Linked DNA regions of Homo sapiens. The protein of the gene in region 1 binds, or shares a complex with, the protein of each later gene. Links are inferred from orthologs where the notes say so. Each region holds a gene or a part of one and is shown in the gene's direction. Other genes may lie near its edges.

Region 1 (5,080 bases):
AACATTAGAGCTCCTGGTCTGGTGGGTAGAGCCAGAGCTGCTGACTGGTCTCTCTGCCTCCAGAGGGGATTTATTGGACCTCAGAGGTGGCAGGGCCCTATGGAGCACCAACTGCCCTCAACCCCACCCTGTGCCCAAGACTGGGAAGGGATTGATGTCAGGCTGTGGCCATAGGTAGCATGAGTTGCCCAAGGAGGGACAGAGCATATCTTTGCTGAGGCTTGGCTGAGGGGCTTATGATAGGGCTTGCAGTACCTCACAGCCCCCTGTGGGCACAGACACCCTGAGGTTTACCCAGGCAAATATATTGATTAGCAGGACAAGGGCTCTCTCCTCAGTTTCTGCTCCCTTCCATCTCTCTCCCATACTTGTCTGAAAAGGGAGACAAAAAATCTTATACAAGTGGCATCTCAATCCTTTCCAGTCCAGCACCTCCTGGGGCAGGCAGTGTGACTTATTTCCTGTGGTGAAATCACCTGTTTCACAAGCCTGGCAGCGCGACTTCTGAGTCTCATGACCACTCAACCCAAGGGACCCCTCCCCAGACCAGAACCAAGTCAGCTGGGGGCTGTCGTACTACCCTGTCCAGTCTTGAGGGCCTAGTTGCAGGTCCCCCAGGCATCCAGCCCCTCCTAGAGCTTGCTGGGCAGGCTGCACCTCATCTGGGCAGGCGCAGAGCTGATGAAATGCTGGAGCAATGCATGGCAAACATATGCCCTCCAGTGTCTTCTGAAACCTTTGGGGCTGACACAAGATCCTTTAGTGTTTGGGATGACCTCTTTCCTGCAGACTTCTTCCCCTATCCCTAACTCATGCATGGAAAACGTTTGTCAGGCTGGTTTCCCGAGCCTCCTGCACCTCAACATCACGCTCACCCTTTTGGGTTTAGCCCAGTGTTATTTAGCAAATTTCTCCAGCTGCAGGGAAGGATCAGAGCACTATCTTTTTTTTTTTTTTTTCTCCTGGAGCCAGGACTGCACAAGGCAATGGCCAAATTTAGTTGAATTCAGCCTACCATCCTTTGCTGATGACTCAGCTCTATGCCAAGTACTGGAGCCACAGAGATGGGTCAGTCCCAGCCCCTGTCCTCAGGAAGCCCATGGTCAGGGAAACGTTGTAGGGATAAGTAATAGAGGGCAGTTGCCTTCAGGGCTCCTGGTGGCTGCTGGTCCCTATGGTGCCTTGATGTGAATTAGAAGACGGTGCCCTTTCCAGGTGGATTCAGACCTACACTAGAACGCACAGCTTTGGGAGTGACACACAGGTTGGATTTTAGCACCCCTTGCCCCTTGGCCAGAGGTGCCCTGCTGCACGGCCATACGCTGCAGCCTCGAGGGACACACAGGCCAAAGTGTTTCCTTCAGCCTCTTCCTGGAGAGGAAGCCGCAGGTCATGTTTCCAAGCTTCTGGTCAACTCCAGGCACCACCTCCCAGCCCCCAAACATGGCCGAGCCAGTGCTTCTCTGCAGGGCCCCTTTCCTTTCTGGAGTCAGCCTGCCCAGGTGATACCTTGAAGTGAAACTAGGGGTGGGGGAGCCTCACTAGGCCCCAGGCACCATCCCACAGTACTGGCGGTTTCTCTGCCAAGTGTTTGGGGCCTGCACTGGCCAAGCCATCCGTCACTGGGACTTTGCAGTGTGCCCTGTGGGTGGCGTGTGGACACCGGTCCGGGCAGGAAGGAAAAGCATGCCCCGGTGAAAACCCACCGAGCAGAGAGCCAGCGGGACCTCCTCAGCATTCCACCCAGGGGAAGAGTTCAGTCCCCATGAAGATAAGGACTGAGTTATTTGGCTGCACCTCTCCTCAGCCTCAAAGCTCAGACCTGCTAGAGTGGGTTCACCTGGCTGTTGGTTCTGTGGGAGAGTTCCTGACAAGCTGGTTCCTACATGGTGCAGTGAAAGGAACTCTGTCCTGGAAGTCCCCAATGCCGCCTCTCAGTCCTGCCTGTCACCAACCACCTGGGGGGCTTGGGCAAGCTACTCAACCTCTGGGGCTCAATTTCCCTAACTGTAAAATGGGATTGTAATCCCTTCCCTGCCTGACGCAGGAATTGTTATGAGGCCCAGATGAGATGAAAGTCAGCGGTCAGGGCTCTGTAAGTTGAAAATGGCTGGATGTGTGTGGCCCTGCCACTGCAGGGATGGCCCAAGGTCACACAGAAAGTTTGCTGCAGGAGGAGCCCTCCCCACCAGTCTTCATCGCTTGCCCTGCTTCTCACTTAGGCAGATGTCAACCAGAATGAGATACAGCCAATTTGGCTTTGATGACCCAGCTGAGAGGGAAATTTAGATACAATTCAGGAATATCATGCCCAAAAATAGTGGTCCCAGCAACCAGGACACAGAGGGAAGACCTGGATATTGTCAGTGATTGGTGGAGGGGGACATCTTGGACCCTCCTAGGCCTGGTGTCACATCTCCCATCTCTCAGACCCCACAGAGGCCAAGGGGCCTTGGCTCTGACCCAGGTTAAAGAGAGCCACCAGCCCCCAGGCTCAGGGAGCTGAAACCACCCATCCGCAGAAATCTAAGGGCAAGGAGAAATAGAAATTGTCTGTTCCTTCCCTTCAAAGTGTAAGGCCTCTTCCAGGAGCAACTGGAGCCACCACAGCTTCTCAGTGACATTGGGAGGGCTTCGGGCCCAGGAAAAACCCAAGCCTTTTGTCCTGAGAGCCGAGCCACAGCGGATGCAGTGGCGTCAGCATCCCAGAGCGGCAGCTTCTCTCCTGCCTGTCACTGGGGACTGGTTGCTCTCCACCCATCCAGGAGGAAGGGGTTAGGTCCCAGTCTTACACTCTTATAGGGTCTCATGGACATAGGCCTATGCCTGTTCTGATATCTATAATTTTTTAAACTCAAAAGGACCAAAACACTCCTGAACCCTCATCTATACGGCCTGCACTGGGCTTGGTGTTTCCTCCTGGCCCAGGCAGCTCCATCTCTTCTGCCATTCCTCCTGGACGAAAGTGGCAGGACCCCACCTCTACCACTTCCCCACAGGGTCACTGCACAGCGGCTTCAAAGACACGCCCTGTTGAAGGGGAAACATCCTCCCCCCATCACACTCCAACTCGTCACCCCAAAAGGGAAGTCAAAGCACAGGTCCGTGGGGCCTATGGTTTGTAGACACTGACACAGTGGTTTTCAAACCAGGTGCTGCGGAACCCCTGATATTCCACAGAGCTTTGTCAGGGGATGCTAAAGTGGGAAGATGGGAGTGGAGGCAAAGGATAGGTTTCCAGCCCTCCTCCCATTTCCGCCGCCACCAGAATAACTCTGCTTTTATCTGTCTTGCCTACTGAGATTTCATTTTCAAGCTTTCTTTGAAGAAGAACTTCAAACCACCATCTCGAGGTTTGATCTTAGACCAGCCAGCACAGGTTCTATTCTTGCTGTTCATGTTGGAATGGCTCCAGCGTTCCAGTACAAAGTGTCTTTGTGTTGGAACTTGGGTCACAGACCCAGGCACAAGCATTTATACACACACACACACACACACACACACACACACACACACACGTACATAGTTGATGGTTTTTCTAGCCAACCCACCCTGAAGCTCTGGCCAAGGTTTGATTTGGACAGGGACCTGGTGCTCAGTGGGGATGGGTCGTGACCCTGATATTGGCCCATGAAGCATGGGGAGCTCTGGAGCAAGGAAACAGGCTCAATCCCCCACTGAGGACTTGTGTCTGCACCCCTATCTGGCACCCCACTTTCCTGGCCTAGGCCCAAGGGACACAGCAGGAGAAGCAGTGTGATAGGAGAGAGGCTAGGGTTAAATTCATCTTTACACAGCGCCGGATGGATGGAAATCTTGGCTCACATAAAAGACAGACTCAGGGAGGATTTTATGACAAAAGTCCCTCCTTTGAGGGCAGGATTCCCCCAGGAATCCTGGACACTTTAGTGAGAACTGGACCAGCCCTTGGCACAAAACCCTGCCTGCCCTGTCCCCCACTCCCACCCCCCAGGGAATTCTAGGTGAAAATGTGAAGCTCAGGGCACAGCAAGCGCATGACACGGGTGTATTACATTCGGTCCGAGTGTGTCCTTAGTTTCCCTGTGTGCAAAATGGGGCTAGTCCAGGCTCTTCCCACCTCACTGGGACAATTGCAAGGGTCATAGGAGAGGTGGGTATGATAGGTGGTCATATGAGGTGGTGAGTATGAGAGGTGGGTGCCTCACAAACTCGGGGTATGGTCCTGACCTGCATGGCAGATGAGCAGAGCACTTGGGAACGAGCATAGGAAGTGCCATCTTCCCGGGCATCTCTGCTCAGTGTTAAGGTCTAGCCACAGACACTGTGGGACCTGCCTCTTCCTATGGAATGGGGGCCTGCATGGGTTGTGTCCTGGGGCAGGAGTGAGGGATGGCTGGGAAGAATCTCCAGGTCTGTGGCCCTTGTGTTGAGTGATTATTTTGTGACACTCTCATTCCTGGACCACCTGCCAGGTTTATCTGTTATACCTGTGGCATTCTTATTATGTCAGACAAGTTATTATAGTTCATTCAACTCTAACAAATGAACAAAAGAACAATAAATAGGAGGCCATTAAAGGTCTTTTGTGGCAGAGGATGCTGGCTGTGCTTTCATTTCTGTCTCATAAGCCCATGGCAGGTCAAAGACCAAGAAATGCCTCCCTGCTGCCCTGGACTGGCAGATGGGGCTCATGACTGGGTGAGGTGCTCTCTTCCCTTGTCTGTGGCCCCAGCTCCAGCCTGGTCCTTGTACCAACTTCTGGAGACTGCCAAAAACTTTTCTCCTGTCCCTCTTCTGCCACTTTTCAGCCTTATGGCCTTGGGAAGCTGGCATACCTCTCATCCCTCTCAGATACCACAGGATTTTGTGACCCATGGTTTGCTCCTGGGGTGAAGCCATCCTATCTTCTATCTTTGGCACCACTGACCACATCAGTGGGAGTCCTCACCCCAGCCCCAGCCCTGGTTCTTGTTCACTTCTTATCTCCTGCCCTGCTGGGTCTTCCTGAAGTCACTTCAGTTTTCAAAGACTTATGTGCCACCTGGTCTAACAGAACATATGGGAGGAGTAAGGATATCAGTGAGGAAGAGTCGATGTT
Region 2 (7,446 bases), on another chromosome or scaffold:
AAGACATATTTATCTGATCCTCTGATATGAAATCCCCTATTAATAAACACCTTTCTTAAAAGTGCTATATAAAAGTATGCTTATAATAGGAATGTTTCCTTTAATTTGTCTAGAATTGAAAGGGAAATAGGCAGGGGGGTTCAAAAAACAAAAGGGAAATTGAAGGCATCCAGAAACTTATTTTATTTTTGAGACCGAGTCTCGCTCTGTCACCCAGGCTGGAGTGCAATGGTGTGATCTCGGCTCACTGCAACCTCCACCTCCCAAGTTCAAGCGATTCTCCTGCCTCAGCCTCCCAAGTAGCTGGGATGACAGGCACCTGCCACGGTGCCTGGCTAATTTTTGTATATTTAGTAGAGGTGGGATTTCACCATGTTGGCCAGGCTGGTCTCAAACTCCTGACCTCAGGTAATCCGCCCGCCTCGGCCTCCCAAAGTGCTGGGATTACAGGCTGAGCCACCATGTCCTGCCTAAACCAACTTTTGTGAAATGGCTTTTTAAGGTAATGTCATGAACCACTTCATTCCTCTGCCAGGGTCTTATTTAACCCTTCAAAAACATGGGTGGGCCCTATATAATGTGACTTCATTCTACATTGGATCCCCACAAAGCTAGTCTTGGCTTTTCACTTGGAACATGCCCAATGCTGATACAAAGTAAAGATTCACTATAGATCTTATTGCTATCCATCGTACGTTATAAAACTTGTCTAAATATTTAAAGGTTTAAAACAAGCCTGCGCAGTGGATGTCAAGAGTAAAGTACGTTTCATAGTAAAATTAAAATGCCATTAAAATTTTGTTCTTGTGGGGCTGGGTGTGGTGGCTCATGCCTGTAATCCCAGCACTTGAGGAGGCTGAGGCAGGCAGATCACCTGAGGTCAGGAGTTCAAGACCAGCCTACCCAACATGGTGAAACCCCTGTCTCTACTAAAAATACAAAAATAAGCCAGGCATGGTGGCTGGTGCCTGTAATCCCAGCTCCTCGGGAGGCTGAGGCAGGAGAATTGCCTGAACCCAGGAGGCGGAGGTTGTGGTGGGCCGAGATCACACCATTGCAGTCTGGCCTGGGCGACAAGAGCAAGACTCCGTCTCAAAAAAAAAAAATTGTTCTTGCTTTGTAAATGCTGCTTTCTTTTCTTCATTTTGGAGCGGGGAGCCTTGCCGATAGTCAGTGACTTGTACATTTGTTTACTGGCATTTGATAGGCTGCTCCTTATCTTGCATGAAAAAATAAAGACCTAGCCAGTCTAATCCTGCTGGGATTCATATCAGTGGCCCCAGGGGGTTGAGATGCTTCAAAGCTACTGTTTAAATGGCAAAACCAAGTATCTTACTTGGATAATACTAAAGTATGTCCTTTATGGCTTTATTGGAATCTGAATTGTAAACATTTGGTACAGTGGATTAAAGTTCTGCTTTAAAATTAATTTCTGAGTATGTGAGATATGCCTTTTCTTTGTGACTTTTGCAGTGCAGTGAATTCAGGCTGTTTTTAAAAGGTCAAGTTTTTAAAAGGCAGGGGCATTAGTGCTAGGGCTGCTTGAAGATGAACAGCTAATGGAGAAATCCTACAGTGAAAGGGGTTGTTTTTTTTTTTGTTTTTTGTTTGTGTTTTGAGGTGTCATTCTATTGAGTGTTTATATATATATATATATATATATATATATATATGTATATATCTCCATCCTAATTGTTGGCATAACATTAAAATTAGTGACACAACACAGGTTTCTTGTATAGGTTTTCAGAAACTAGCAGTCCTCAAAATAACAGACCAAGCAATGTAGTTTTTGCTAATGGCACTTGCTGTGACTCATGATAGTCTACTGTTGATGAGCATTCCAACTAAAATAGCTTTCACTTCACCATTGATTAACATGGCTACCTTGCTAAAACATTTTCTGAAACCAAAAGCTAGAGTGATCATTCATAGCATTGTCTTATTAAAAGACTATGTCATACTGTATCGTAGAAAAAGCCATTCTGGGTAGTAGGATTTGCTTCCTGGTCTATTAGGTTATCTGTTCTCCCTTCTAACTTGAGGTAATGTCTGAAAACAGTGCCATTCAGGTATTGCTTAGGTAACTAAACCAGTGAAACCAGTGAAACTGCCTTTATACTGTTACCAAGAACAGCAGACTCCCATTAAAAAAAAAAAAAAACTCTTATTACCCTACTCAAATTATTCATCTTTAAAAAGGCATAGGGTTTTTTTTTAATGTTTATCATCTTGACTTTTTTTTTCTCTTGAAAATTTTTGGATTAATTTGAAGATCATTTCAAAATGACCCAGGATATCACGATCTATTTTTCCTCTTCCTAAATTATTTCTCAAAACAGTGTAATTTCTATGTGTGATGACGTAGCAGTCACTAACAACCTCAGCGCACTTTTTGGTTAGATATTCCACTCCAAATAGCTAAAATCAACTGCTTTTGGGATTCTAAATGTACTTAAAGTTACAGGGTCTGTATGAAAATGCCAGACACTAATTAAATTTTGGTGGCCCATTCATGATACGGCTCTTTTATCTCCGGATTCTGAGATTGAAAAGGTGACTTGATCAAGCTATTGAATTACTGTAATAAAACAATTACTCCCTTAGAATTTTAATTTAGAATTTGTCTACTTCCAAAAAGGGTTTAAAGCAGTTATTACTAGACTGGCATTAGGTTATTTCAAATGTTGCGGAACAGAGGATCTTCGTGTATTTAGCTTAACAATACAAAAAGAAATTTTGCAAGCATAAATATTCACTCTTACAACATGGTGGCAAGGCTTTTCTTTGCAGAACAATCTTTGCCCTCTTACCTGCCAGACTCTTCTCTCATGCTCAGTATGTGAGACAGTTAAGTAAAGGGAAAAACACTAAAAGCAACTAAAATGATTGGCAAACTTCTCACTGTAACCTAAACTGCTTAGCATACAAAACTATCGTCTACCCAATAGGGTTTTATGTCCTTTAACTGAAAAGGACACTAAAAATAATTATTGTGGACTTGAGCTTTTCTCTTTCGGCGGGGCGGGGGGTGGGGGGGGAGAATCACCTCTCTTACAAAGATAAAAGGCACAGAACTAACGTCTTTCATCCTTTATTGTATTGGTGCGATTATGAAATATTATTATGGCTTATACTTTAGCAAGAAAGTACCAGAAAGGTTATTATTAATCGACAATGAATGCCGTTGATACCTTCATGCTCTTTGAAGACAGGATGCTCCGGCTTTGAAGCGCTACATTTCTACATTGCTAACCTACAGGAACCTATGTTGAGGTGGTCCCACCGAAATACACGGCTAATAGTTCATCTCTTTCCTCCAGGAACCTTCAGGTTTTTTTTTGTTTGTTTTTTTTTTGAGACGGAGTCTCGCTCTGTCGCCCAGGTTGGAGTGCAGTGGCGCGATGGAACCTTCGGGTTTTACTAAGCATCCTTACCCTAATTATCTAAATCTTTGAGACGTAAATTATTTGATGTGGCTAAAAATCCTCCTGCTAGAATTTAGGTCCAATCCTTTAATGTTCGGATACTCAAATTCTTTAACGAAACTGATCACTGAGCTAGGCCGACACAAGTCCGCCAAAATGTCCGCAGAAACGTTAAGAAAAGCTGTCATAAGGCCAGCTTGAAAGACATCATAAAAGGCCTTCGCTGTCCTTTGAGTTAATTATCTAACACCCGAAGAGAGTGCCAGTTCTAGTTAGAATCCGCGCGTCAGGTTCTCCAACAGTCAGAAGGGCTTGTGTGAGGGCAGGGAAGATTTTAAACCCCGTTTCAGGCCCCCTCCCTAGGCTGTAGGAAACCACCCACTCTGAAGCCCGGCGGGGGAGGAGTGCTGCAGCCAGCTGCCGAGGGAGCGCTCTGCGGCGAGGCCGTTTCCCTGAGTCACGGAGAGGGCGGGAGGCTGCGCCCGTCTGCCCCCGCCACGTCCTCCTGTGAGGGGCTCAGTCGAAACAGGCAGCGGTCGCAGGGAAACGAAGCGGCACCCGTCATGCCTCAAGGTGGCCCAAAAGCCTCTTCACTCCCAGGAGACGCCGCATTTCCTTAAAACGAGCTCTCCATTTCTGGCAGCAATCAGCCGACCCTTCCCCATCAGTATCACGTGCACCTGGAAGTACGTGGGTGGGACCTAAAGCGCCCACGGAAGTGACGTCGGTCGCCCCGAGTCGCATGATGTGGCAAAATGAAAAAAAAAAAGTGGGGGGAGAAAGAGAAGACTGGCGAAAGTGATGAGTCTAAAAAAGTAGTCCCTCCGGTTCCTCTGTTTCCCCCCATGTGGCGTCAGGAAGCGAGGCACCGGGCGCACTGCGCCCCGAATTCCTGCGCCCGCCGCGCGCGGCGCTCCGTGGAGGGGTACATAAGGCGGAGGGGGTGAGGCGACTGGGCGGAGTTCTGTCGCCGGGATCCTTCCGCTGGGCTCAGCCGTTTCCGGAGTCTGCGCTGCGCCCGGTTCCGCCATTGCGGCTCTCCTGGCCCCTGGAGCCTCCGCCCCCGACCCGAGCTCTTTCGTCTGCCTGCCAGTTTCCTGCGTCCCCGGAGAGGATCCTGCTGAGCCCAGCCTCCCCCCTCCCCTTCTCCTCCTCTCCCTTGGAGAGCCCGGGCAGCCACTGCCCCGCAGCCCCAGTGACAGGAGGAGACCATAACCCCCGACAGCGCCATGGCCCAGATTCTGCCAATTCGTTTTCAGGAGCATCTCCAGGTGCGGCCGGGCCCGGGCTGGTGAGGGCTGTGGAGAAGGTGGTAGGAAGGATGGAAGACGCTGGAGTCTGGGCCCGAGCAGTATCGGAGCTGGAGGGGCGGGGGGGTTGTCGGTGATTGGGGTAGGTGGAGGAGGGGGCACTATCTTGGAAAGCTTAAAATATTAAATGATGTGGGGCTTGGATGGAAAGGACAGGAGTTGGGGTGCAAAGAGCTGCAAGGACCAGGCCTGGATCCAAAGGCCTCTCGATCTTGCTTCCTGGATGGCCAGAACTGCGCGTACAAACTCTCTCCCCATTTTATTCATTTCATTCATTTGGGTAGGGGAGTGGGAGGGGGATTCTCCCTTGTTTCTACCAGAGCAAGGATTCTTATCCCCTGGGCCAGTGCGGGGCTGTCACCTTCCATTGCTCTCCTCTTTCCCTCATCGTGTCTGCACCCAGGAGTTGTGGGGCGGGTGGGTTGGGGAGGAGCAACCTTTTTTTTCCCTCCCTCTGCGGCTCTCAACTGAGAAAGGCACCTTCTCCGGTGGTGGGGGTTGGGGGTGGTGGTGAGGCGGTGGCTTTTCTCTTGCCTTCCCTGAGGCAGTAGGGACAGAAGGTCACTGAAAGAACGGAACGAGGGTAGAATGGGAGAACGCATTTCTTAGAGCTATGTCAATCTCAGAGTGTGTGCGGTCAAACTCCCTAAGGAAACTCGCCTCCCCTTCCCCCTTTTTTTATTTCTCTGGGGATGTTGTGGCTCTTAACCCCTCTTTGGTTCTGGAAGGTAGGAAAGAGTGATACAGAGGTTATCTTTTAGTCTTCTCGAGTAGTAGCAGGTAGTTTTGAATATCTTCTTCAGGATCGCATGGAATTGAACAGAGCCCTGGGGACAGCACAGCTGCTCTGAGACCTGCAGGGCTATTTGGTCTGTGACTGGCTTCCCTTTAGTAAGTTCTAGAGTTCTTCCCCATGGTTCCTTATCCTGGAGGCAACATATTGTTATCTGGCAACATGCCAGTGGCGGGCCTAGGCAGGTGACCATTGGAAGGCTTCACTGAATTAAACCTCTTCAGAGCTTTTGATTTTCCTGTGTCACCAATCCTGTTTTTTACTGTAGCTTAAATAATTTATTCCTATTAATTTGCTTTCTTCCCAAATATCCCCTTAAAGAAACCTGCCTCAGCTCAGTCGTCTGAAGGGCTAATTCCATAATGACAGGGAATGCAGTGGTTTGACATGACACTGATATCAGTGACCTATTAGACACTTTACCATTGAAGACCATTTTTATTTACATTTCCCCATTGGCATAGCATACATAAAGGATTCTTGTTAATAAAAGGTTTTAACATTCAGGCTATAAGTAACATAATTTCATATTTCTTTGCAAGTATTACCATGTTTGCACTAGCAAGGACTTATTTTCCTTTAAGGCTTGAAATGTAAAGAATAATAAATTTTTACCCATAAAATGAGTTAAATAATGCACTTTCCTCAGTCATCTATAATTTTCAAATAACTCATCTGAAGTAATGGAATATACCTTGGCAATAAAAACACTTTTACAGAGGGTTAAAAATGTTAAATAACAAAATGGACATTTTTTTTTGATCAATCCAAGTTTAGTTGCTGTGGTTGCTTTTGTTAAAGTGGGGTGGCAAATGAATGTGGAGAGTTGAGGGGTGCTGTTCTTAAGTGTGAGGGGAAAACGCGGGCTTATTTTCATATTAAACTGCATCTGAAATATCTTTCTGCAGACAAATGTTTATAAACCACACAGAGAATCAAGTACAGCTGCTCTTTATTTTCCACGGCAGATGTGTAGCTCACTACTAAATCTTGTGGTGGTTGGAGTAATAGCTTTTCATTTCTTTTAAAGAGGAGACAAGAATTGTTAAATGATCCCAAAGATTCGAACCCAACCTTGTCACTTATTAAAGACAAATTTAATACATGTCTGTTTTGTAACTGGATCAAAGTTTCTGCAGATGCTTGAATGAAGCCATTTTCTTCTCAAATAATTTGAAGATTTTGAATATAAAGCGATTTGCAAATTGAAAAATTCAGTCCTCTGTGTTTTGGATTGCTATGTCATGCCTAAACTTAAGCTTGCTTAGCTAATATGACTGTGCTCCAGTTGATTAATTGTGGAGCCCAAATAACTACAGCCTCTTTCATGATAATATATCTCCTAACTTCATATCATTATCTCCTCCCTTTTTAAAAATTAATAAGCATTTTGTTTTTTTGAGGAGACAGGGTTTTTGCTGGAGGTCAGTGGCACCATCACAGCTCACTGCAGCCTTGACCTACTGGGCTCAAGCCATCCTCCCACCTCAGCATCCTGAGTAGCTGGGACTACAGCCATGAGCCACCACACCTGGCTAATTTTTGTATTTTTTGTAGAGATGGAGTTTCATGTTGCCCAGGCTAGTCTCGAATGCCTGGGCTCAAGCAATCCTTTGCCTTGACCTCCCAAAGTGCTGGGATAATAGGTGTGAACCACCGAGCCCAACTAATAAGGATTATTTTAATTGGCATCTTTGGTCTTTGACCTCTGAGCTTCTACCAGTTTGCTAAGTAGCAGAAAACTTTCTGAAACACGTAGGATAAAAACTGGAAACAAGAAATGGGGAACTTAAGTGTGAGTGTAGAGTTACCTTGTGAAACTGTAAATGAACTTATTTTTATACCCTTTAACTACATTGTCCAACTGAAGGATCTCTTGTCATCAAAGCTTGGACCTACAGCAAATGAATGTGAA
Region 3 (7,040 bases), on another chromosome or scaffold:
CTGGTCTGGCTGAAGCTGATTTCCAAGCTACTAGAATGTAAGTGATCTTCACTTATCTGGGAAATTGTCCCTCTGGACTGAACTAAAGCTCACTCTGATAGTTTCTTTCCATCACTGAAAGTACAAATATAGTCTGGAAATAACTTTACTGAGAATTTTATTTTCTTCTGTTGGCCATTGACATCACATTCATTCATTCACTCACTTAGCAAATATTTATTAAGTGCATACTGTGTGCCAGGCAGTGTTCCAGGCTCTGAGGATACAGCAGTGAACAAAGTCATGGCCCTCTGGGATCACTTATTCTGAAGGATGGGGGTAGGAATATATATAATATGTATAGATAATATAATATATAATATGTATAGATAGTGTAATATGTAATATGTGAGATGGTGATAAGTACTAACAAGAAAGTAAAGTAGAGAAGAAATCTAAGAAATGCTGGGCATTTGGGGGTGAGGGGTTGTATTTTCTTTTTAAAGGATGGCCAGGGAAGACCTCACTGAGAAGGTGGCATTCATATAAAGACCCAAAGGAAGTCAGGAATAGGAGGAAGAGAGAAGTACAGCCTATTTATCTTCTTTCTTTAATACAGTAAGTTAGCTACTTGTGTTGCCCAAGCTACCAAAATTGGATTAATTTCTAAAGAACCCTCAACAGATAATTAAATATCAACCATTTTATGAGGCATGTAAGTGTAGGTGGCAGGGGCTAGGAGAGGGGGGAGACAGGAAAATATAGTAGTGGTGTCCTGCTATTTAAAAAACAAACCCTTTTCAGAGAGTCCCTTATTCTCATTATCCTTAAGAGAGGAGGTTGGATTGTTTTCCCTACCAGCCTGCCTCCTGCTGTATCTTACAATGAAATCTTCAGCCACAACTGCGTTTGCTGTCTCTTCCTATGAAATAACTCTCAGAATGCTTAATTTGACTTCCTATAGGTTGAGTAGAAATGGGCTGAGAGGCAGGGAGCCTTAACATAATATGGGGAGACAAAGAGGACTATAAAACAAGAAGGTAAATGGTGTGAGCTCAAGTGTCTTGGGTATTGCTAGGTTCTTTCCAGTTTGAACATCCCTTATTACTGGTTTCCTGAAGTCTTCTTATGTCCCTGCTCTGCCTGTAGTTTGCTGAGAATGAGGCTTCTGCATTGTTGGATCCCAATTTTACCTAAGCATGGAGCTTTGACTTTTCTAACTAATTCTTTAATTTTTTGATACTTGGCCATTAGACTCTGACATATTACCTTATAGAATGAATTCAGCAAATAAATTATAATTCATGATATTAATTTTCATTCTCCACCCTCAGCATCTGTGAGCGGGTAACTCCCCGGCTATCCCATGCCAACTCAGCAGTGGTGCTTTCAGCGGTAAAAGTCCTAATGAAGTTTCTAGAATTGTTACCTAAGGATTCTGACTACTACAATATGCTGCTGAAGAAGTTAGCCCCTCCACTTGTCACTTTGCTGTCTGGGGAGCCAGAAGTGCAGTATGTCGCCCTGAGGAACATCAACTTAATTGTCCAGAAAAGGTTGGGAAATAGCGAAGTGTTGATTAAAGTGTTTGTAATTTTGCATTAAGCTTAATAATGTCAATGTTAATTAGGCTAGTGTTAATCTCTTTTTAATATATGGAAATGAAAATGTTATATGGCAGAAAAACTTGCTTGCCTAGCACCAGGAGGCTAACAGTTGATATTACAGTGTTTCTATAATAAATGCCATGCGTTGCTCCACAATCCAGTTTGTTTTCTGAAGGGTCTCTTTCTGATATACTGTCTAGTGCCTGGTTGATATGGTTCAGGCTGTAGTTTAGAGCCAGATTGTTGTTCTAGCAGTTCTTCATGGCAACATGTGCCCTGATGCTTAAAAAGGATAAAAATAATCTGCCAAGTGGAACTGATAAGAATAGAGGCGTATAGAGGAAGTTTATGCTTTTTTTTTTTTTTTTTTTTTTTTGCCTGAGTGGAGCGAGAGGAGAGCAGAGAGGCACAGATTAGGTATTAATACAGTCTCAGAAGGGTATATCAGTATATGCCTTCACCTTCCTTTCTTCTGTTTCTGTGTACCCTAGGCCTGAAATCTTGAAGCAGGAAATCAAAGTCTTCTTTGTGAAGTACAATGATCCCATCTATGTTAAACTAGAGAAGTTGGACATCATGATTCGTTTGGCATCTCAAGCCAACATTGCTCAGGTCAGACTTTATGCAGACTCAAGTTGATGATGATTTAGCTCTTAAGGTCTGGCCTTTAAAGAAGCTAGGCTGTGAGATTGCTATTTGAGAATCCTTAATGATTAACCACTTCCTGGGTTTAACAGGTTCTGGCAGAACTGAAAGAATATGCTACAGAGGTGGATGTTGACTTTGTTCGAAAAGCTGTGCGGGCCATTGGACGGTGTGCCATCAAGGTGGAGGCAAGTGTCTGATGGTAGTTAGGATCATGTATTGGGGATTCTGAGAGTTCTCTTCACTTTTTTCTTTAAAATAATTTTTAAGTTTATCAAAATAATAAAGCACACAGTTTCAATGTTAAAGAATTTTTAATGGAAAGCAGCTGTCTCTGGTTCCTCCCTTCCCTACCTAGACTTTCTTCTCAGAGGGAATATTTTTAACTCTGATTTTGCTTTTAGTTATTCTTTTGATTAAAATAGGTCCTCCATATCCATGAGTTCCACATCCGTGGATTCAGCTAACTGCGGATCAAAAATATTCAGGGGAAAAGAAAAAGGATGGTTTTGTCTGTACTGAACATGTACAGACCTTTTTTTGTCTATATTCCTTAAAAATATAACAATTATTTACATAGTATTTACATTGCATTAGGTATTATAAATAATCTAGAGATGGTTTAAAGTATACAAGAGAATGTGTATAAATGCAAATACTATACCATTTTATGTAAGGCACTTAAGCATCCATGGATTTTGGTATCCACAGGGGCCCAGGAACCAATCTCCCATGGATTTGGAGACATGACTGGGCTGCCATATCTCTAAATAATATTCTTGGCTGGGTGCAGTGGCTCACACCTGTAATCCCAGCACTTTGGGAGGCCAAGGTGAGAGGACTGCTTGAGCCCAGCAGTTTGAGACCACCCTAGGCAACATAGTAAGGCTCTGTTTCTACAAAAACTTTTTTAAGTTAGCTGGGTGTGGTGGCACACACCTGTAGTCCCAGCTACTTGGAAGGCTGAGGCAGGAAGATTGCTTGAGTCTGGGAGGCTGAGACTGTAGTAAGCTGTTATTGTGCCACTGCACTCCAACCTGAAACCTTTTCACTCTGGGTGACAGAGCAAGACGCTGTCTCAAAAAAAGAACAACAATAATATTCTTATGCTATTATTTATTAATTTACCTATCATAGACTTTTTCTGTTAACTATCTGCTATAAGAAGTTTACTTCATACACCCACCATTCCCACTTCCGTCTCCTGTTTTCCAGTGTAGTTACATAATGAAGGTTTTTGTTCCTATATCCATTATCATGGTAGATTGAAATAATATGCCTTTGTTTCTTATTCTATCAACTGTTGGCTTGCAAAATTTATGCATATTACGACTGTGTAAATATTTAGGGCCAATGTAATGCAAATGATTACATTTTCTTTCTTATAGCATCTTTTTTTTTTCTGGAGGTTTTTTGTTTTGTTTTGATTTTTGAGACAGAGTCTCTGTTGCCCAGGCTGGAGTGCAGTGGTATGATCTCGGCTCACTGCAACCTCTGCCTCCCGGGCTCAAGCGACTCTTATGCCTCAGCCTCCTGAGTAGCTGGGATTACAGGCATACGCTACCACACCTAGCTAATTTTTGTATTTTTAGTAGAGACGAGGTTCGCCATGTTGGCTGGGCTGGTCTTGAACTCCTAGCCTCAAGTGATCCGCCTGCCTCAGCCTCCCAAAGTGTTGAGATTATAGGTGTGAGTTACCACACCTGGCCCTGGAGTTTCTTTAATTGCCTCTTTTTTTCTTGCATGTGTGTCTTTATCATGCCCCTATATTATTCCTGTTCCTTAAGCATAATATCAAATCTGTAAACTTTCTTTTGTCTTAGACCCTTCTCTTTTGCAGTCCTCTGTCTTCTTGTTTTTTCTACTCTGACTGATTGCTTTTCTGGCTTCTGCACATCATTCCATACAGCCTCCCTATTTCTTGTTATTGGTATATTTTTCCTTGCATTGCTCTTTTTGTGGTTGCAATAGCTTCTTGAATCTCTGAGGATATGAATGATTCGTTTTTTTGTTTCTGCACTTTGAATTTAATTATCGGATATTTTTTGGTGATGATTGCATATCTATGCATATAATTTTTTAATTGAGATGTATACCATGCATACAGTAAAGTGCAGCTCGTTTCTGTTTAAGAAAGAGGTAACAGAAAAGTTGATTAGGACTTCTGTATACATAGGCAAGGCTGTCGACTATCAGGTTTCTGCTTTAGGGAAGGGGGTTTATCTTTACATGGAAGACCTCTTGAAGAGCCTATCTGGTCTTAGAGGGCAGATTGGTTTCTAGCTTGGCTGCAGCCTTCCGGTAAGTATTATGGGCTGTAATTTACATTGCCCTGCTTCATCAGTCAGCAGTCCTCCATTTGTTTGTCCTCATTCAGAAATTTGTTGAAATTAACAGTGGCTTCTGTTCACTGTTTTTATGGGTTCAGAGCCCCATGTTTGTTCTTGCTACTTGATTATATGCAGTTCTGCCTAGAGTCAGAGGATTGGACCATATGATTTCTCAGGAATACGAAAACAATTTGTACAGTATGACCAGTACTTTACCGGAACAAAAGGAGGCAGATGTGTGTCAGAGAATCTTCTATGAAATACCTGTTCCTAATTGGCCTTCCTTGTTTTTTTTCAGTTTAGTGCTGCTTCATGTAGTTTCTGTTGATAAATAATTTAATAGAAAGGCTGTTAACAGCAAGAAGTTAGCTAGTCCTGGGTTCTATTCCTGGTTCTGCTAGCTCACTTGATTCAGATATTTAATGTTTCTCTTCATTGGAGAAATGTTAAAGTCTTTTTGTTGGATCTTGATATGTTAACATTGTTTTTATTACCACTGTCACCACACGTCACAACTTGTTTTTCTTTTCTTTTTACGTTAACATATCTTACTAGCCGTCTACTTAGTATTAATGTAGATAATTTTCAGAGAGATTTTGGTAGCATAAGAGTAAGGTGGTTTTGTTCTCTTCACTAGTGTACATAGCCATCTTTTCCACAAGACTGCCATTGTCTTATGACCTACCTCTCTGACAAAGCTGTAAACAGTAATACAAAAATTATATCTTATTCTGAAGTTCAGAGACTTTCTAGCCCTGGAATTACTAGAAAGTGTTCTCAAAGCATCTAGATTCCTCAAGGCTGTTAGTCATCTATTGTGACTAATGGAAAGGTTCTCCATAATCTTCTGGAAAAGACTTCTGATGGCTTTCACTTCTTCCTTTGACTAAGCGTGCTTTGATGGGAGTATGACAGGATGTGAGGAATGAACTTTCCCAGGAAACTTAAGGTCACCCTTCAGGAATCCTGTCTTATCTAGTGCTGTCATTTCAGATTACCCAGATTTACCTTAGAACTTTTCCTGTAACTGTTTCAGCCATGAAGGTTTTCAGTTTGACAGAGTTGCCAAGCCAAACAGTTAATTGGACCAGGAGAGGCAATGATTGCCTGTTTGCACTAACTCATCCATGGGACAGGAATCAGCAGCATAAGAATTGTAATGAACTTTCTGTATAGCTTTGGGAAGCAACAAGCTGTTGAGCAAATAAATAGCACTGAAAAAGCAATCCTATGGTGCTATTTTTTTGTTCAATAACTTTTGCCTATTTCTTTCAGGAGTAAACAAACTCCTGGTCCTTTTCAGTTTTAAAAAGGAGAGAGGTTGAGGCACTAGGTTAAGACCAGGAGTTCTTCACTTCCTGGTCTTCTGGTTATTTTCTGTTTACTATTTCTGATTTTTATATATTAGAATAAAATATTGGTTTGTGTGTCATTTCTTAAAGACAAAAAACATATTTTTCCTATTAGGAAAACCATATTTGTTTACTATATATAATTATAGAACAAGTTAAACAAAAAATGGGGTACCCCGCTTTCCCCATCTTCTGTTTCACTCTCTCAGATATGCAGTGGACATAATCTGGTAGACATCATTTTATATCATTGTTTATATAGTGTTCTATACAAAGATGTATTTTTTTATAAAAATGAAATCATTCCACAAATGCTATTTATTTACTTTGTTTTATCCTCTACTTTTTTTTTTCTTACTAGTAATATCATGGACATTGATCCACATTATAAAGAAAAATTTATGTCATCTTTAGTTTCTGGTTTATAGACATAACGTGATTACTTGATAACTTACTGAATTTGTAACTTTATCCCTTATTATAGGACCTTAAAGTTGTTTCTACTCTTTTTCCAAATGGTGGTATAAGGAGTATCCTTGCAACTAAATCTTTGAACTCTAGTTGAAGTGAACATTTTTTCATAACAGTTATGCTTATTAGCCATTTGGGAATTGCTCACTCATGTCCTCTGCACCTTTTTCCAATATGTTATCTTTTCCACATTGTTGTTTTAAAGTCTTTTGTAATTGAGATGTTAACCCTTCTTTTAGTTAGCATTTATTTTCCTAGTTTGTTGTCCTTTAGATTTCTTCTGCTTTCTTGATGCACAGAAGTTTAGATTTTTGTATCAGCTTTTCTCAGTCAGTGTTTTTCCTCAGTGGCACACTTAGAAAATTGTGCTTCACCTAAAGTTATATAAAATTCACTATTTTTTTTTTTTTTACTTCTATGGCAATGATTTTGTTTTATTTGTTTTTTGGGGGGTGGTGGGGAAATGGAGTCTTGACTTGTCGCCCAGGCTGGAGTGCAAATGGCGCAATCTCAGCTCACTGCAACCTCTGCCTCCTGGGTTCAAGTGATTCTCCTGCCTCAGCCTCCAGAGTAGCTGGGATTACAGACATGCACCACCATGCCCGGCTAATTTTTGTATTTTTAGTAGAAACAGGGTTTCACCATGTTGGCTATGC

Evidence for each region. Proteins that work in one complex are often made in the same cells at the same time.
Region 2: the proteins of ARRB1 (region 1) and CLTC are in contact, whole or in part, in a crystal structure (PDB 3GC3), measured with the Bos taurus proteins. The link is inferred for Homo sapiens from one-to-one orthologs. Residues at the interface, in NP_776668.1 of Bos taurus: His30, Ile31, Asp32, Leu33, Val34, Glu35, Pro36, Pro96, Thr98, Arg99, Tyr173, Pro175, Lys355, Thr374, Asn375, Leu376, Ile377, Glu378, Leu379, Asp380; in NP_776448.1 of Bos taurus: His12, Leu13, Gln14, Gln16, Asn17, Leu18, Gly19, Val50, Asn56, Asp57, Pro58, Ser59, Asn60, Ile62, Arg63, Arg64, Pro65, Ile66, Ser67, Ala68, Lys78, Ile80, Leu82, Lys83, Ala84, Thr87, Gln89, Phe91, Asn92, Ile93.
Region 3: the proteins of ARRB1 (region 1) and AP2B1 are in contact, whole or in part, in a crystal structure (PDB 2IV8), measured with the Homo sapiens proteins. Residues at the interface, in NP_004032.2 of Homo sapiens: Asp384, Asp385, Val387, Phe388, Glu389, Phe391, Ala392, Arg393, Arg395, Leu396; in NP_001273.1 of Homo sapiens: Arg834, Gln835, Phe837, Leu838, Trp841, Lys842, Asn846, Glu849, Ile876, Ala877, Arg879, Val881, Glu882, Gln884, Tyr888, Glu902, Arg904.

Annotation. Positions count from the first base shown.
Region 1 is NC_000011.10:75,259,620-75,264,699, reverse strand, and holds the end of ARRB1 (beta-arrestin-1), read left to right. Parts: 3' UTR 1-4,578; downstream 4,579-5,080. UniProt on the Homo sapiens protein: Functions in regulating agonist-mediated G-protein coupled receptor (GPCR) signaling by mediating both receptor desensitization and resensitization processes.
Region 2 is NC_000017.11:59,615,475-59,622,920, forward strand, and holds the start of CLTC (clathrin heavy chain 1), read left to right. Parts: upstream 1-4,420; 5' UTR 4,421-4,657; coding exon 4,658-4,699; intron 4,700-7,446. UniProt on the Homo sapiens protein: Clathrin is the major protein of the polyhedral coat of coated pits and vesicles. Two different adapter protein complexes link the clathrin lattice either to the plasma membrane or to the trans-Golgi network.
Region 3 is NC_000017.11:35,625,308-35,632,347, forward strand, and holds part of AP2B1 (AP-2 complex subunit beta), read left to right. Parts: intron 1-1,313; coding exon 1,314-1,535; intron 1,536-2,077; coding exon 2,078-2,198; intron 2,199-2,323; coding exon 2,324-2,419; intron 2,420-7,040. UniProt on the Homo sapiens protein: Component of the adaptor protein complex 2 (AP-2). Adaptor protein complexes function in protein transport via transport vesicles in different membrane traffic pathways.